Regions from separate parts of the Homo sapiens genome. Here region 2 is linked to region 1. Evidence: fine-mapped expression QTL. Tissue or cell type: lymphoblastoid cells. Region 1 holds a variant in brackets; the other region holds the start of a gene. All regions are shown on one strand. Distances are from middle to middle.

Region 1 (9,601 bases):
AGCCTTGACCTCCCAGGCTCAAGTGATCCTCCCACCTCAGCCTCCTGAGTAGCTGGGACTACAGGTGTATGCCACCACACCTGGCTAATTTTTGTATATTGTGTAGAGACAGTGTTTCACCATGTTGCCCAGGCTGGTCTCGAACTCCTGAGCAAAAGCCATCCACCCACCTTGGCCTCTCAAAGTGCTAGGACTATAGGCGTGAGCCTCCGCGCCCGGCCTATGTGGATTTTTTTTTTTTTTTTTTTTTTTTTGAGATGGAGTCTTGCTCTTTCACCCAGCCTGGAGTGCAGTGGCATGATTTCAGCTCACTGTAACCTCCGCCCCCTGGCTTCAGCCCCCCGAGTAGCTGGGATTACAGGTGCATGCCACCACGCCTGGCTAATTTTTGTATTTTTAGTAGAGACGGGGTTTCTCCATGTTGAACAGGCTGGTGTCGAACTCCTGACCTCAGGTGATCCACCCCTTGCCTTCCCAAAGTGCTGGGATTACAGGCGTAAGCCACCGTGCTGGCCGTGGATTTTTTGGTTAACTTTTTTTTTTTTCCCCTCAAGCATCTGAGTTAATCCAGAACTATAGTGGGGTCCTAGAAACTAGCCATAACATTAAAAAAAGTAATTTAAGATTCGGTAGAGAGCTGGTAAAATTATGTGAAACAGAATGAACCGAAATTACCACATGACACTGGAAATCAAAGGAGGGGACATTCTGCAGTATTTCTAGCTACTAAGCGATGGCAACTTAACACTCGCTGTATGGTTCTCTTCAGTTTGCAGCCTGTGTTTTATTTTTGTGAACCTGGTAACCAATGCTGATGAATGCCCATCCGAAAACCACTTCCAACTTCTTCTTCCTTGTCCACCTCCTACCAGAGGAGCGGAAAAAGCTAAAAATTCCATTTTGCAACCAGTCTGTGTGACCCAATCCTGTTCTAAGAGACACGCGGGGGTTCCTGTGGCAGGGAAGATTCTGGAAAAGATTTTTCTCCCTGATTTAAAGGAGAGAGACACATGAGAAGGGCCCTTTCGCACCTCCCTCCCTTCTTGATAGCACCCTCCTCTGGGTGCTATCGTGAGGATGTGATGCCTGGAGCGGTGGTAGCCCCCTTGAGATCAGATAAACCCCCAGCCTGAAGCTGAAAGCTGACACGTATAGGAAGGTAAGAAAGGAAAGACCAAAGGAGCTCCAATCCTTGTAGGCACTGTTGAGCTGCCAATCCAACCCTGAGGATCACCCATTTTAGATTTAAGAAACAGAAGTTCTTAGGTGTAAGCCACTGCTCATTTCACATTAACTGCAGTTGACAGCATCCACGGGATACAAATGTCAACAAAATACATGTAAGCGTTTTCATGAGGTCACTGTGTATCTTGATCCTCCAGGCCTCCATCTTTTCCTCACGAAGTCTGTTCAAATTTTCACAGAGATTCTTTTTTGTTTTGAGACAGAGTCTCACACTATTGCCTGGGCTGGAGTGCAACGGCATAATCTCTGCTCACTGCAACCTCTGCCTCCCGGGTTCAAGTGATTCTCCTGCCTCAGCCTCCCGAGTAGCTGGGATTACAGGCACCTGCCACCATGCCTGGCTTATTTTTTTGTATTTTTTAGTAGAGACGGGGTTTCACTATGTTGGCCAGGCTGGTCTTGAACTCCTGACCCTGTGATCCACCCACCTCAGCCTCCCAAAGAGTTGGGATTACAGGCATGAGCCACTGCGCCCGGCCTCACAGAGATTCTTGAGGTTAGAGAGAGACACTCTCTATTACAGCGCCCCTCAGAAGGCTGTGAGGTTCATGCACTCCATAAAATACTACACAAATGTAAAAGACAAATAGTAGCAAAATACTTCTGTGTTAGGAAAAGACACTGACTTTCATGCTGTAGGGGACAAGATGCTATGAAGCAACTGTGTCTTTTCCACTGGGGGAATGAACACTGTGAAGCCTGGAGGTGGCGGAGCAAGAAGTATTTTTAAAACCTTTGTTGTTAAGACGTTAACTGCAGAAATGCCACACTAAGCTGAAACCGGGAGTGCCTCTTCCTGGCTTTAACATTAAGCTGACCTGAACCTTCAGAATCATGGACAACCAATCAGAGTTTACCGAAACATAGAGTATGTGCAAAACAAAAAACAAACAAACAAACAAACAAAAAAATTAGTTTAAACTGAAAGGGCAAGTTGGGACCTTATAAAATGCCTACATGTTTCAACTACTCATTGCGGAAGGTGTTGCCTAAAAATACTTATCTGCAGATTTGTGATATATAAAAGAAGACCAAAATCTCACTGATCTCTATTTAAGGATGCTGATGCTTACACCTTGGTGGCTGACAGTGGCCACCCTCTGCAGTGTCCCAAAGGCCACCCTCCTTGGGTCCTTGGCAAGAACCTCCTACAGAAACTGCCGAGTTAAGGTGGAGACAAAATGGGCAGCGGAACAACTGGAGGAGATCTGCTGTGGGATGCCAGAGAGAAAGCTGTTTCTAGAAAATGCCTTTAAGACAATCTTCTTAGTTTTAAAGAAATCAGCCAGGCGCGGTGGCTCACGCCTGTAATCCTAGCACTTTGGGAGGCCGAGGTGGGTAGATCACCTGAGGTCAGGAGTTAGAGACCAGCCTGGCCAACATGGTGAAACCCCGTCTTTACTAAAAATACAAAATAATTAGCTGGGCGTGGTGGCGGGCACTTGTAATCCCAGTTACTCAGGAGGCTGAGGCAGGAGAATCGCTTGAATCCAGGAGGCAGAGGTTGTAGTGAGCCGAGATGGCGCCATTGTACGCCAGCCTGGGCGACAGAGCGAGACTCCGTCTCAAAAAAAAAAAAAAAAGAAAAAGAAATCATGGCTATGAGTGGTGGCTCACGCCTCTAATCTCAGCACTTTGGGAGGCTGAGGTGGGCGGATTACTTGAGGTCAGGAGTTCATGACCAGCCTGGCCAACATGGTGAAACTCCGTCTCTACAAAAAATACAAAAATTAGCCGGACGTGGTGGCAGGCGCCTGTAATCCCAGCTACTTGGGAGACTGAGGCAGAATTGCCTGAACCCGAGAGGCAGAGGTTGCAGTGAGCCGAGATCACAACACTGCACTCCAGCCTGGGCGACAAGAGCAAAACTCCATCTCAAAAAAAAAAAAAAAAAAAGGAAAAGAAAAAGAAATAAAAAACTCAAGGCAAAGAAAAGGTTTTTAGTTTGTTCCCCTACCACTGATGTGAAATGGGGACCTAGGGGAGATGTGGAAGGATGACTAAAATCTAACACATTGCCCACCATTTTTGAACTTGAAGGTTGAGTTTGCAAATCATTTACCGCCTTTGCCTACCTCATCTGCTAGTTGCCTTCTGGAAATTTTGCAGTTCCCCCTCAAGTCTAGTTATTTGATTCTAACTTTGGTACAAGATTTCTGGTTGGAGAAAATGAGATGTAACTGAAATTTCCAGGCTACCATTCATTCATTCACTTTAGATACAGGGTCTTGCTTTGTGGTCCAGGTTAGTCTCGAACTCCTGGCCTCAAGTGATCCTCCTGCCTTGGCCTCCCAAAGAGCTGGGATTACAGATGTGAGCCACCGTGCCCAGACCTGTATTTCATTTACCCCCTTTTCTGAGATGTTCCTTTCCTCTCCTCCTGAGCAGGTATTAATTACACTGAAGATCAACCCACACAGGCTGACTCAAGAAGAGCTCAATTTTTTGGAGGTGGGGAATTTGCTCAACAGGCCCTCAGGGAAGGTGAAGTGTGCATCCCTCTGAGGACCCTTCTGCTTCCTGTGACCCCAGCTGCTTGCTTTAGATATTTCCTTCCCAAGATTTTTCAGGGTGGAGCTCACTAATCATTAAGCTGTAAGGGGATGTACTGGGTGTTTCCTGCAGACACACAGGCTCTCTGTGCTTGAAGAAGTAGGTCTAGGAGGATTATGCCCTCCAGAGAAGAAGCAAAGGTAAGAGGTGCAGAGGGGAGTTCTCACAATGGCATTTTTTTGGTCCTTCCTGAACCTTGGTTACATAAGCCAAAAAAGGATATTCTTTTTTCTGCTCAAGCTAGCCTGATTTGGATTTCCATGAATCCTTATAGCTATTTTTATTTTATTTTGAGACAGGGTCTGGCTCTGTCACCCAGGCTGGAGTGCAGTGGCACAACCACAGCTCACTGCAGCCTCTACCTCCTGGGCTCAAGCCATCCTCCCATCTCAGCCTCCTGAGTAGCTAGGACTACAGGTGTGTGCCACCACATCCGGCTAATTTTTCTATTTTCTGTAGAGACAGGGTTTCACCATGTTAGCCAGGCTGGTCTCGAACTCCAGGACTCAAGTGACCCACCCGCCTTGGCCTCTCACAGTACTGGGATTACAGACAAGACCAACCGTGCCCGGCCAGATATTTTTTAAAATTGTGTATTTCTCAGCCAGGTGCAGTGGCTCATGCCTGTAGTACCAGCACTTGGGAGGCTGAGGCAGGAGGATGGCTTAAGCCTAGAAGTTTGAGACCAGCCTGGGCAACATAGTGAGACACCATCTCTGCAAAGAATAGAAAAAAAATTAGCTGGGTGTGGTGGCGCATGCCCGTGGTCCCAGCTACTTGGGTCCCAGGCTGAGGTGGGAGGATCGCTTGAGCCTGGGAGGTCGAGGCTGCCATGAGCAGTGACTGCGCCAATGCACTCCATCCAGCCTAGGCAATAGTAGTATCTTGTCTCAAAAGAAAAAAAAAAAAGAAAATTGTCTATTTCTAAAAACCTGTATTTAAACCTCATCATTTCCCCTCAAACAAGTAGCTTGTATAAAATTACTCATAACATGAACATGCTAAAGAAATTCTTTTGAATGATGAAAAGTTACTTTGTACATTATATTAAAATTTATTTTCTATGTATACCCAAATTTTCAAGTATTAGATTTACTTAGAAATTCACCAGTGTTATCATTATACAATTGGCTGGAATTAACAGTTGCAATACAGTTATTCTAGCTTTTCATATTCAATTTGAATGATCAGAAAAGTATATTAGTCACACAGAATTAAATATTTTAGATAGTAAGAATCTTACACTTTATTAGATAATAAAACATAATTGATATTTGCTTAAGTAACAAAAAAGTTAAGAAATTGGGTTATAAGCAAAGGAACATAAGTGTAA[A/C]ATGTGTAGAAAGATAAATATTTTCCAAATAAAATTCTAATAAAAGGCTAAACATTCTCAAATATTTTACATACATGAAGAATAAATTATTTCTGGTTAACATGTTTTTGCCTTAGTGCCAAAAAAGCCAGAACAAATTTGATAAGCTCACATTAAAATCAAAGTTTTCTAGATATGAATTCTATATACCATCTCTATATTTGTTTAGAATTTTGCAAAATTCTTAGAAGATTGCATGTTAGGGTGGGGGAAGATAAATGCTTGCCAATACTGACATGGTTAATTAACAGACAGGCTTGAAAGGAGAAGGCTAGAAGAGGGAAGATTATGTCACTAAGCATAGCTACAAAAGGAAAAGCCACATGGAAGCAGAGACAAAGGCAATCCCGACACACAGAGGCATGTTTGTTGCGGCTCAGGGTTTCTGTTTTTCAAGTGTTCAGAGACGAATTCCAGCAAGACTTCTGGTTTGAGTCAAGCCTTTCAACCGAGGTGCTTGGCATACTTAACGGAAAAAGCGAGTACATTCAGATTTAGTTTTGCTAGATATTAAACTAGAAAACTGGATGACAGTAAAACCAATACAGAAACAAAAAGTCATGTTTCCAGTAAAGAACCGTACACACAAGCAGGTTTTGCTTATTAATGTAGCAGGAGAGCATGGAAATCGGAGTTCAGACTCTTTAGAAAAGACAAAAGGCAGGGGAGGGGAGAGAAGAAAAGGAGGAATGCAGAGAAGCCCTCCAAGAATGATGAGTGATTCGTGCAGGAGAGGGAAATACAGACGTTCCGTCCATGTGAGATTCTGCTTCAGGTATTGGACATCGTTCCCTCCACCTGCACCTAGAGGATATGTGTTCAGGATCTCGCTATGGTTAGTTACCCATGTGCTAGACATAGGTTGCTAGCTAGAAGTTTTGCCAGCCATCTTCCCCCCTCCTAGTGCTAATGCCTAATTTCCTAAAGTAATCTGAATCCTTATAAGCCAGGGTAGCTCAGGAGGTTCTATTTACTTATTTATTTATTTTGAGACAGAGTCTCACTGTGTCGCCCAGGCAGATCTCGTCTGGGCCCGAGTCTCGTTGCAGTGGTGTAATCTCTGCTCACTGCAACCTCTGCCTCCCAGGTTCATGCAATTTTCCTGTCTCAGCCTCCCGAGTAGCTAGGATTACAGGGGTGTGCCACCACGCCTGGCTAATTTTTCTATTTTTAGTAGCGAGAGCATTTCGTCATGTTGGCCAGTCTGGTCTCCAACTCCTGACCTCAGGTGATCTGCCTGCCTTGGCCTCCCAAAGTGCTGGGATTATAGGCATGAGCCACCGCACCCAGCATCAGTAAGTTTTAATATTACGTCTAGTCGGCTCACGGGTGCTTGAGCCAGAAGTGGGAAGGGTACACTTGTATTTTGGGCTCAAATGGTTTTCAAATAAAATACATCTGACCAAATAAAGTGAACACAGTCCTGAGCCCTCCTCTCTCCAGATATGCATGCAATCCACACCATCAAAAGAAGAGTTCACTGTTCCCAAGGCCAAGAAGAGGCTATGCTGTACTGCAAAGAACTCTATAGCAAAATCGAACACCCAAATTAAGTGCCAGAATGATGCAGCCCGCTCTCACCAGGAAGAACGACATGTGAGAAAACTTATAGCAGATGCAAAAATGTCAACCCACCATGTTATTTAAAAAAAAATTTTATCAGGATACAAGGACACTTCACTGTTTTTAACCCACACAAGGTTAGGTAATGTTTACCTTGAAACATAATCGCATATGGCCCTTTATGCCACTCACCTAGGCCTTTAATAATGAGGGCAATTGCTAAGTGTGCTGTCTCTTCTGGGGACTTCTCTCTGAAAGGGGGATGATATATTGATAAAATATTTTATTAATCAGTTAAGAATTTTTGATCTACTTGAAAAAGATTAAATTATAATATTTCACTTTGAAACTGCTATTGCTCATGCAAAAGTACTTGATTTTCATACTATATGGAGCTCACAATCTTTGGACTACACAAACATTCTCTAAAAGGGCAATGACTTATATTTTCCAAAGTTTAGACATGACATCCAAAGGACAAAAGGTAACTATTTTTTTTACCAATGTGGTTGGAACAGTGACAACGAGCAATGTATTCACCAAACTGATCAAAAAATCTGCCTGTGGTTCCTTCACTGTATGTGTGTGCAGAGAAAGGCAGAAAAGCTTCTATCCATGTCATTGTCTCTCTTGCCCATGTGCCAGTAATTTGAATAAGATGAGAATGGGCCAGGCGCAGCGGCTCACGCCTGTAATCCCACTACTTTGGGAGACCAAGGCGGGTGAATCACGAGGTCAGGAGTTAGAGACCAGCCTGGCCAACATGGTGAAACCTCATCTCTACTAAAAATACAAAAATTAGCTGGGCGTGGTGGTGGGCACCTGTAATCCCAGCTACTCAGGAGACTGAGGCAGGAGAATCGCTTGAACCCAGGAGGCAGAGGTTGCAGTGAGCAGAGATCACGACAATGCACTCCAGCCCTGCGACAGTGCGAGACTCCGTCTCAAAAAAAAAAAAAAGGTGAGAATGTGCTTTTCCAGAATAACCCCAGTTGTATCTAGAATTTGTTTTCAATATAAAGGCAGGTATGAGAATGTTTTGAACAACAGAATTAATCCATCTAGATTAGAATGCTGTGTGGCATGACCATTCTCGAATTTTGAAAGCCTGAGCTGGTTGTGGGCAAGGGGATATTCATTAATGACATAAATTTCATTTATGAAATATGTATCCATCATCTAGGTATCTTATACATGGAGAGCTGACTGCATCCCTTGTATAAAAAGTAAATGAAGACCGGAAGGAAGCAGACTTTGTCCTGCAAACTGAAGCAAAGTTCCATGCTAAGAATCAGCAGGTTTTCTAGGTAGGTAATGCCACCAGTGGAGGATTATTACAGTTCTCAAATCATGAGGGAAAGAGATGGAGAAGAGGGAGGGAGGAGGGAAAATCTTGCATTCTAAGAGGTAAGAGTCCCCATTACAATTGCAATGCTTCTTTAGACAGCTGATTTTTCTGGCTGGAAGGCACATTAAAAATAACCCTAACAATAACTTACCAAGACAATGGAAATCAAAAGAAAAGAAGGTAGACGTGCAGCTGTCTTATTAACATGACAACCAACTACAGCTGAAACAATACTATGGTACAGGGACTAGCTCATGTTAAAGACTGGTTATTTAGGTAAAGAGGATCTGGTGCTCTTGGTTTAGCTTCAGTGATTTTCCAGCACTTATTAAAGCCATTGTGCCCTGAACATGGAGACCCCCAAATCCTCTATGTGCCAAAGATTAAGTTGTAGAGAATTACATCAATGTTTGCTGTTGGTGTGCACCACAGATGAGACCAAGCTTCCTGGTCCGGCTAAGTGGAATCTTCCATGCACTGTGCACCACTCAGCTAGAAAGTCAACTAAGCAGAAAGGAGATAAGGAATGGCTATGGAATACCTGACTTCTTTATCTTGGTTATGTGTCCACAATTTTCATAAAAATAAATAATACACATTAAGTCAAAATCTGGGCTCAAATGTGTAACAAGAAAACAAAAGGACAACAATCTGGTATTCCGGTTTTTTTTTTTTTTTTGAGACGGAGTCTCGCTCTGTTGCCCAGGCTGGAGTGCAGTGACGTGATCTCGGCTCACTACAAGCTCCGCCTCCCAGGTTCACACCTTAGCCTCCCGAGTAGCTGGGACTACAGGCGCCCGCCACCACGCCCGCCTAATGTTTTAATTTTTTAGTAGAGACGGGGTTTCACCGTGTTGGCCAGGCTGGTCTCGAACTCCTGACCTCAGGTAATCCACCTGCCTCAGCCTCCCAAAGTGCTGGAATTACAGGTGTGAGCCACCGCACCCAGCCAACAATCTGGTATTCTTAAGGCAAAACAGTAGAAATCACTTTAAATAGACACTTTATTAGATCCACAGGCGATAAAATCCCAGAGCTACTGTTAGGCACGTAAATATAGACCCTGTAAGAAAAAAACAATTGAGAGTACTATTAGTTCTATTAAGAGTTACTTGAGGGAACATCTTTTTTTAAGAAAACCTAAAAAAGAAAACCTAGAAACTTAGATTGCTCACTGATGTCCCATATTCCGTGAAACGCCTGCCTACTGAAAAAACAAATCCCACACCCTTTATTTTATTTTCTTATTTTAGAGACATGGTCTCATCTGGTACCCAGGAGGAGTGCACCATGCAATGGTATGATTACAGCTCACTGTGCCTCAAACTCCCGGGCTCAAGTGACCCTCCTGCCTCAGCCTCCCAAGAAGCTGAAGCTACAGGCAGATGACACCATGCCCGGCTAAATCTTTTTGTAGAGACTAGGTCTCGCTGTGTTGCCTAGGCTAAGAAAACTTTTCAATAAAAGTTTCGAATAGCAAAAATTCTGTGGTCACAAGGTCTATGTATATGCACTATAGA
Region 2 (9,601 bases), 29 kb after region 1:
CAAATGTGACGCTTTGCTGCAGCCTATGGGAGTTGTTCCCAGCCTACTCACAGCTTGGGAAGGGGAGGGTAGCTGTGGTCACTGTAAGCATCCAGATGAGTGCAAGAGATGCAATAATCCATATCTGTATCAAGAACCATTTGCAGACTGACACAATATAAAGTGCAATGACTTATGTGTGTTTGTGTTTGTTGGTAAAACTGGGCCCTGAGATTCAAAGAACCACTGTGCTATGACAGGAGGTCCTTGACCTGGCATACAAAGCCCTTGCTATTTATGACCACGCTTATCCTTTCAGCTTTCTTTCTAGCAACCTAAGCTATTCTATTTCCTGCAATTGCATGCTTAAGCATGGCTTGCTCCCCTTTCCCAATCGTTAAACTTTAAGCATTCTTTTTACCCTTCTTCATTAAATTGCCAATTTACTGAGTATACATTATGTTCCAGGTGTGGCATTTTCTTTTTTACACTTTATGGTTCTCTCTGCTTCCTCCACCCAGCTAAGGGAGCAACCTTTATTGAGCCCATACCTGTGTTCTCAGCTCAGTACAGATAGCTCATCGTAGCACTTACTACATTATTTCCTCATCTGTATCATCTATTTGTCCAAGCTGCCCAGGAGCAGCCAGTCTTGCTCATTTTTTATCTTTAGCATCTGGCAAGGGGCCTGGCATACAGCAGGCTAGGAATAATTTTTTTTTTTTGGTAATTGAACTGTAATGACTTCTACAATCTGGATTATGAAACTGTCTAGAGGGAAAATTTGAGATGAATTCCTTTCTCCTCAGTTCTTCCCTTTTCACATAAACGAGCTCACTTAAATCTGGTACCTCTTTTTTAGTTTATTTCCAGTCCTGAGACTAAAACTGGCCTCCATGAGAAGAGACCCAGGATGTCTGCCCAACACAGAAGAGACCTAGCCTGAGAAACAGTGGGAGTGAAGGAATGAAAGCACTTCTCCAGGGGACCTCCTAAGGACCACCTCACCTGCCCCAGAACTCTACTGGACTGCCCCATGTGTCAGGGAGCTCGAAAACACCTGAGTCTGGAATGACTTGTGAAGAGTGACAGGGTTACTCTAGACCTAAATTCCTTGTTTCTAGTAAGAAAATAATCATTCATGTATTTAAAACATAACCTCCTCACCCCCACCCCCACATAAACAAAACAATCACATGACTACTTTGTAACGCCAATTTGGATACTACAGTTTTTTTGTTATTGTTGTTCTTTTTCAAAAAGATTGGAACCAGAAACAGCAAGCTTATTTCCAAGAAATCCTGCCTCTGAAAGGTCGACAGAAGGGCTGGCCACTTTCCATTGGTCACTCCAACCCCTGATGAGGGAAGGAAATGCCCTCTTGGCCTTCTGTCAAAGGGCAGTACCTGAGGACACCGCCAACTCCCAGACTCCTCACTGATCATAAGGAAGCGAGCCAACTGAGCTGTGTCAACGTGTAACATGCAATTCCCCTTTCTGGGGACCTTCAGCATATCAAGAGAATATTAAAAACCCACAATTACAATAGAGGCCCAAAGGTAGCCTTGGACAGGATGAGGAAACCAAATACAAACTTCCTACTCATGACATCCTTAAGTAGCTCAACCGAGAACCTCAGGCACCAAGCAAACAAATGGTTGGGAAACGCTCATTGGCTGGTTAATGGGCATACATGCTTCCTTAACTGTGTCTCTGCTCTCTTCTGTTTTTATGCATCCATACTCATTTTTTATGATGACTGAAGAATGAGATAGCTGACACTAAAACAACAGTACCACCTTACCGATTGGTCAGCAAATCCGTGAGAAAGAACACTCTCTTTTTGCCCTATACTCTTGCATTGAGAGAAAAACAAATTGGAAATTACTAGCTTGTCAGAAAAAGCGCAACAAAAGGCAAAATACAGAATAAAGACCAAACTCATCTCCGACTCCTAATTACTGAAGGACAGTGACACCGAGTTCACTACTCATTCCCCACTCTCTGTATATAAAGTTTCCTTCACTTTATTGCTCTACTAATCAGTTTTTACCCCAGCCAATGATATTCTTAAATTATAGATATGGTCAACATTTAGTGGGCCTATCTGTTGAAGAAAATATGAAAAATGTGTAGTTAGTGATGGCTACTAATGAATATGTATAGACTGCCCAAAGTGATAATTTTGCCAAGTCTGTTGATTATCAGAAATGATTTTTTTCTTTAATCAACAATATGCTATCTAATAAATTGATTCTATTTACTTTCCTCATCTCCAGGGCAGTGATCTCTCTCACCTCCTTTAAATAGTCATGAGCCCCACAACTACCTTTCAGCCCAGGACAGAGGGGCACACACGACAGTGGTCTATGAGACTATAATACATATTTTTACTCTACCTTTTCTACATTTAGATGCGCAAATACCATTGTGTTCAGATTGCCTCTAGTATTCAGTACGGTAACATGCTGTTCAGGTTTGTAGCCTAGGAGCACTAGCCTCTACCTGATAGTCTAGGTGTGTAGTAGGCTGTAGCATCCAGGTTTGTGTAAGCACACTCTACAATATTCACACAAGGAAGAAGTCGCCTAATGACTCATTTCTCAGTAGGCGACTGTCCTGAAGAGATGCATGACTCTAATTAAATGCTACCTTCTCAATGAAATCGATTCTGATCACCCTATTTAAATTCACAACTGGAGACCCATTCCACTTCCCAAGCCTTATCCTATTTTTCTATACCAGGCATCGAATTACGAATATATAAAAATTATTTGTATATATAAATTATATATACATCAATTATGCATACGTATATCCACACACACATATTTACTGCGTCTGCTCTGCTAGAATTAAGCTCCAGAGGGAAGATTTTGTGGACTGATATATCTCACACATCTAGAAAAGCGCCAGGGACAGGGCAGACGCTAGGACTCCACGAATTAATGATTCCATCAGAATTTGAAATCAAACTGTAAAGCAATCCCTTCATTTCCCAGAGCTTTGCTGCTCAAACATACACACCCCTTCCCCTTGAACGCCCAACAGGCTGGGCGCTGCCAAACAGAACTCCTGGAAGGCGGCGCCCAAAAGCAGACCCTAGGAGTGGGCGGGCACCAACTCCCCGCCCCAGCACGCACCTCCCTCCAACTTTAGCGCCCGGGATTCCCAGGAATTCGTCTCTTCTGGGCTAAGCCCCGCCACCGCGGCCGAGCAGGGCGGGCCCGGACCTTCGACCCACGCTCCGGGCAGATGCCGGTGGCCTTGGAGGACCCGCCCTCCGGCCTGCCGGGCCTTTCCTCGGGGAGGCTGTAGCTGAGATCCCCGCCCCGCCGTCCAACCCCGCGAGACGAGCCCCCTCTCCTCTCCCGCCCGGGCCTCACCTCTCCTGCAGGAAACGAGTGCAGGCGCCGGGCCGTGGTACTGGGGAAGGGCGCCGGCGGCAGCGGCGACGCCCGGTGAGCACCTCCACGCGCTGCTGCGCCCGGCCGGGGGTGCGGCATACCCGAGGCGCGAGCGCTCCCAGTCCCCGAGCTGCCGGCGCGGGGCTGCGGCGGCCAAGCGCGGGGAGGGCACTAGCAGGAGGAGGAGCAGCGGTGAGGCACGTGACACGCCGCCGCGGGCCGCCGGGGCGCGAGGGCGCAGCGCCCCCAGACCGTCGGAGAGCGCAGAGAGGCAGCGGCGTGCTGAGGTTTCGCTGCCGCCCGGTCTTCCGCTGAGGCCCACGGGCAAGAAGAGAAGCCGCTGGCGGCCGGGCAGGCGCTGGGTCCTCTGGCCGCCGACCGAGCCGCAGTCCATCCCCGAGCAGTTCACTGGCCCGGGCGCGCGCTCATGCCTCTCGCTTTTGGCGCCGGCCACGCGCGGTCCAGGCCCAGAGTCCGACAGCGGGAGCGAGCGTGGGCCACAGCGCAGGACCGCCCTTTCCTGCCGGGCGCGCGGGCGGGGCTCGGGACGCGCGCCGGGGGTGGGGTGGGGCGGGGCGGCAGGAGCCCGCCGTGGCGCTCCGAGATGCGGGGACCGTGCGAGCCCCCACCCCATTCGCTAGGCGACGGCGGCGACCGGGAGGAGCCTGCGGGCACTCCGGAACTGGAAGGAGCTTGTTGCTGTCACGATTTGCATTTTCACTGCACTGCTGTCCTTAAAAAGGAATTACCCCGGTGCCCTTCAGAGTCCTGTGAAAAGTCTCAGACCGACAGGCTGCCCTAGATTTCACTGATTATCCTAAGTCCCCAAACATGTGGTTCTGGGGAGCATTTTAAGGAATTATTAGCAGGGCCCAGGGAAAGGCCCTCACATAATACATTCAAAACTAAATTTTCAGAGTTTTTGTTTCCAGATTAGAGCACCAAAAACATGGGAAGGTAGCAATCTGGGAACTTAAAACGTGGGGCATGAATGTTAAAATGAGACCTGTCGGGTATATTTGAAACTGGTAATGTTTAGTTTCGTGGACTTTTTGAAGGCCTGTTACACCATTCACAGATAACTGGTCCCTTATGTGAATTTGGAAGATGTTAGTTGAATAAATAAATGAAATGCATAAGGCACCAAGCTAGGAGATTTTATTAAAAATAAAAAACCGCAAAACAAATTGTTCTTATCCTCCAGAAGCTGTTTTCCTATACAGCCATATGTGTACACATACGTGATGGAAGAATGTGTTATGAGCCATGAGAGATGTACAAAGTGCTGGGAAGAGAGGAGCGTGCATATGGATGTGCAAGATAAGTGTCTATCAAAATTTGAAGAACTGAAAAACAGGATTCAAGTCATAGGTTGGTGCAAAAGTAGTTGCGGCTTTTGCCATTGCAAGTAATGGCAAAAACCGCAATTACTTTTGCACCAACCTAAGACACTTTTGTAAAAGGAGTATACATTTATAAAATTGGTAGAAAAAGCAGTTTAGCAATGAGTATCAACAAAAATTTGTAAACTTTTCTCAAGTCACCTAACTAAAAATGGGGATAATGGGAATAATCCAAAATATTAAATATCTACTAGGTTTGACTATACAAACTTGTCATTTTTATGGGTCAAAATGCTTAATATTGGTAATTTCACATATGCACAAAAGATAGTCATTGTATCATAATTTGTGATTGTGAAAAAATGGGAAAATAGTGCACAACATTAGAGGAACGATTAAACTGTGGCACAAACTTTAATGTTAGTCCTTTGTAATTTTTAAAAATTGAGGTATAATTTGCATACAGTAAATTCCACAGACTTAGGTGACATTTAGCAGTTGATAAATGTCATTTAGCAACTTGATGACATTTAGCAGTTGTATATACCACCCAGTCAAGATCTAGAACATTTTCATTGCTCCAGAAAGTTATTTTGTGCCAGTTTTCCAGACAATCCACCACCACCCCAAGGCAACTATTTTCTCTTTTTTTTTTTGAGACGGAGTCTTGCTCTGTCACCCAGGCTGGAGTGCAGTGGTGCAGTCTCAGCTCACTGTGTCCTCTGCCTCCCGGGTTCAAGCAATTCTCCTGCCTCAGCCTCCTGAGTAGCTGGGATTACAGGTGTCTGCCACCACGCCTGGCTAATTTTTGTATTTTTAGTAGAGACGGGGTTTCACCATATTGGCCAAGCTGGTCTCGAACTCCTCACCTTGTGATCTGCCCGCCTCGGCCTCCCAACGTGCTAGGATTACAGGCGTGAGCCACCGCGCCCGGCCAACTATTTTCAAATTTCAATGACCATAGATTAGTTTTGTCTTTTTTTGAACTTCATGTAAATGGAGACCTACAATATGCATTGCCTTGTGTCTTTCTTCTGCTTTGCGTCTGACTTCAATATCAATGAGATTCATCCATGCTGTTGTATCAGTAATTAGTTGCTTTTAATTGTTGAATAGTATTCCATTGTATGACCATACCACAAGCGGTCATCCATTCTATTAATGGCCATTTGCTTTGCTTATAGTTTTTGGCTATTATGCATAGGGCGTTATGAACATTCTTGTATAAGACCTTGTGTGGACATAATTTTTATCCCTGTTGGGGAAAGTATCTGGGTCAAATTGCTGAATCATATGGTAGCTTAACTTTAGACACTGCTGAATTGTTTTTCCAAAGCGACTGCACCCTTTCACACTCTTAGCAATAGATGAGCGTTTCGGTTGTTCCACATCCTTGCCAAATTTTGATATTTTCAGTCCTCATAAAATGGTACCTTATTGTGATTTTTAACATAACATTTCCCTGATGCCTAATGATGTTGACTAACTTTTCATGTATTACTATTACCAGCCATATTGAATACAATAACATATGTAAAGCACTTAGCACAGTGCCTGGCCTATGATAGGAGTATAATGAATGTCAGTTCTAACTACAGGTTGGATAGCATCCACTTTTCCTTGGATGTGACACCTGTTGTTTTATTTTCCAAAGCATTCCCTTTCTTTTGGTCTCAGCACCCTAGTTTTCCATGGGCAGTGGCTCTTCTCTGCTCTCAGTCCATGCGGTTTGGAGAGACTGATCGCTCTGCAGACCACAGGCATGGGCATGTCACCCAATCAGAGTTAATGAGCAGCCGGGCGCGGTGGCTCACGCCTGTAATCCCAGCACTTTGGGAGGCCAAGGAGGGCGGATCACTTGAGGTCGGGAGTTGGAGACCAGTCTAGAGAAACCCCGTCTCTACTAAAAATACAAAATTAGCTGGGTGTGGTGGCACATGCCTGTAATCCCCGCTACTTGGGAGGCTGAGACAGGAGGACTGCTTGAACCCAGGAGGTGGAGGTTGCGGTGAGCTGAGATTGCACCATTGCACTCCAGCCTGGGCAACAAGAGTGAAATTCCATCTAAAAAAAAAAAGCTTCAATTCTAGGATTCTTTTTTTGTTTGTTTATTTGAGATGGAGTCTCACTCTGTTGCCCAGGCTGGAGTGTGGTGGCTCAATCTTGGCTCATTGCAACCTCCACCTCCTGGGTTCAAGCGATTCTCCTGTCTCAGCCTCCCACGTAACTGGGATTACAAGCAAGCACCACCATGCCCAGCTAATTTTTGTATTTTTTAGTAGAGACGGGGTTTCACCATGTTGGCCAGGCTAGTCTCAAACTCCTGACCTCAAGTGACCTGCCTGCCTCAGCCTCCCAAATTGCTGGGATTACACGTGTGAGCCACCACGCCTGGCCCAATTCTAGGGTTCTTAATAGGAACTATTGGGAAGAGGTCGTCTTATTTTATTGTGATGTCTAGGTATAGGATGATTTGAACCATGAGCTCCTGGGGCTACCATGTGGCCTAAGACTAAAGCCCTTATGAAGAAAAGAAGACTGAGAAATGAAGAGACGGGTCCTTTTGAGCGTCTGATTCTAGCTTAGGCTGAAATTGGCATTTTATTTATGTAATCCAATAAGTTGCTTTTACTTAAACCAGCTGGGATAGGGCTTCTGATTCCTATCCCGGATACATTAGTGTACATTAGGATAATCTAGACATGTTAGACTTCTGTCTATGTATAGAGAGACTAGATACAGGAATCTAATGGCCAATGAAGAAGAAGAAGTATCAACTAATTAATGGATCAGGCAGGAGCCAGACAACCCCCATGTGAACCATGACAAAGTTGGACTTTATGACAAAGTTGGATTGGTGAATATACTTGGATCTGGGGCCAAAGTGGGGCCATCTTACTCTCTCTCTGTATCTAGACTTAGGGACCTCCCATGAGTAAAGCTGGATTCACAGAGCAGACTCTGACTTAGCCACCATCTGTGAGAAGTTTAGGTGGCCTTATATATTCTAGGTGTCATCAGGAGAAAAGAGATGGAAGATGGCCAGAGCTATCCCTGAAAGATCTACTGGGTCTGTTTTAGCAGGTAGTAACAGAAAGGTCAAGGGCTCATTGTCCCCGGTGCAAGCAGGTCAAAGAGAGAACAAAGGAGTTGGAACATTCCTGGATGTGACCTTTAGCATACTGATACTCTTACTAGTAAACACTGATGGGGGAATGTCAACTTCCACTAATCAAACTACTATTCTCCGTAATTGAAGAGTGTTAAAGGGTGAAGAAAGGATTCTCCTTCTGGGTAAAATGGAATAAGCACACTCCACCCTGTCTTTCCACCTGAATGCAGGCATAAAAGCTGGACAGAATGCATAGAGCCACTATTTGAGGACTCTGAAAAGTAAATAATAGCAGGCACATCAGTGAAGAAGACAAAAATCAAAGTACCACTGAACTGATGTTTAGTTTAGTATTTTTTCCAATGTATGAGCTCCCCTAGCTTGAACTGTCAACCCATAGTTCTATTACTAGCAAAAATATCCTTCAGTAATGAAGTGATGAAATAAAGACATCCTCAGATGAAGGAAAACTAAGAGGAGTTGTTTTTAGTAAGCTTGCACTAAAAGAATTGCTAAAGGAAATTCACCATATAGTAGGGAAATGATACCAAAAGGAAACTTGGAGCATTAGGAATAAAGGAAGAGCAACAGAAATGGCAAATACCAAGATAAGTATAATATTCTTCTCCTCTTTAGTTCTTTAAAATATGTTAAATGATAGAAAGCAAAAATTCAAACAATGGTGAAGTTTTTAATGTTTATAGATGTGGTATATAATAACTACAAAATAAAAGGGCAAGGATAAAGAGACCTATATGGTAGTGAAGTTTTCATATTGCACTTACAGTGGTAAAATACTGATTCTAAGTAGAGTTAGAAAAAGTTAAATATGTCTACTGTAATCCCTAGAGCAACCCATAAAGATACTGTACAAAGAGATATAGGTTGGGCACAGAGGCTCATGCCTGTAATCCCAATACTTTGGGAGGCTGAGGTGGGAGGATGGCTTGAGGTCAGGAATTCAAGACTAGCCTAGGAAACATAGTGAGACCCCACCTCTACAAAAAAAAAAAAAAAAAAAAAAAAAAGAAAGCCAGACATGGTGGTGAATGCTTATAGTCCTAGCTACTCAGGGGGCTGAGGTGGGAGAATCACTTGAGCCCAAGAGTTTGAGGCTGCAGTGAGCTATGATCAAGTCAAAACACATAATAGATAAAATGTAATATTAAAAAATGTTCAAGTAACCCAAAAGGAGATAGGAAAGGAGAAATAGAAGAACAAAAAACAGAGATAAAAACTAAAAGCAAACAATAAAATATTAGGCATCAATCTAAACATATCAATAATTACATTAAGTGTAAATGGTCTAAATCAGTGGTTGAGGAATGTTTTTAAAAAGCCATATAGTAAATATTCGGCTTTGTGAACCATAAGCAATCTCTTTTACATATTGTTCTGTTCAAAAACAGGTGGTGGGTTGGATTTGGCCCATGGGCCATAGTTGGCCAACCTTTGGTCTCAACATGCCAATTAAAACAGAGAGAATGTCAGAATGGATTAAAAAAAGAAGAAAGCACAGCCTAGTTATATACTGCCTACAAGACACTCACATCAGTTATAATAATATACGTAGGTCAAAAGTCAAGGATGAGGAAACGAGGATGCTCCTCAGGAGGTGAAAGTCTTGATAAAAGTTTTTTCTAATGTGTACTAAGATGGGAAATTGAGAGAAATAGAAGGGATTCTCCCTGATCCTTTCTCTTCCCTTGTATGAAAGTCAGACTCCTGATAACATCTGCATTTAAGAACATAGCCCTGAA

Evidence for each region. PIP is the estimated chance that this variant, and not a neighbour inherited with it, causes the effect.
Region 2: MCUR1 starts here. The variant in region 1 is fine-mapped to the expression of MCUR1 in lymphoblastoid cells (GTEx, PIP above 0.99).

What each region holds. Positions count from the first base shown.
Region 1 is chr6:13,781,721-13,791,321 of GRCh38, forward strand. It overlaps MCUR1 (mitochondrial calcium uniporter regulator 1), which reads right to left. Exons shown (of 9, transcript NM_001031713.4): 9 at 4,837-9,144. The coding sequence ends at 9,089. Among named protein-coding and RNA genes, the nearest start is that of MCUR1, 28 kb to the right of the region's middle. RefSeq lists an enhancer at 5,932-6,764 and a silencer at 7,433-7,601. The variant A/C (reference allele first, on the strand shown) is at 5,132.
Region 2 is chr6:13,810,650-13,820,250 of GRCh38, forward strand. MCUR1 (mitochondrial calcium uniporter regulator 1) reads right to left here and starts at 3,908. Exons shown (of 9, transcript NM_001031713.4): 1 at 3,366-3,908. The coding sequence starts at 3,780. It overlaps LOC107986571 (a long non-coding RNA gene), which reads left to right and starts at 3,161. Exons shown (of 2, transcript XR_001743986.3): 1 at 3,161-3,440. RefSeq lists silencers at 3,096-3,765, 3,846-4,115 and an enhancer at 4,276-4,375.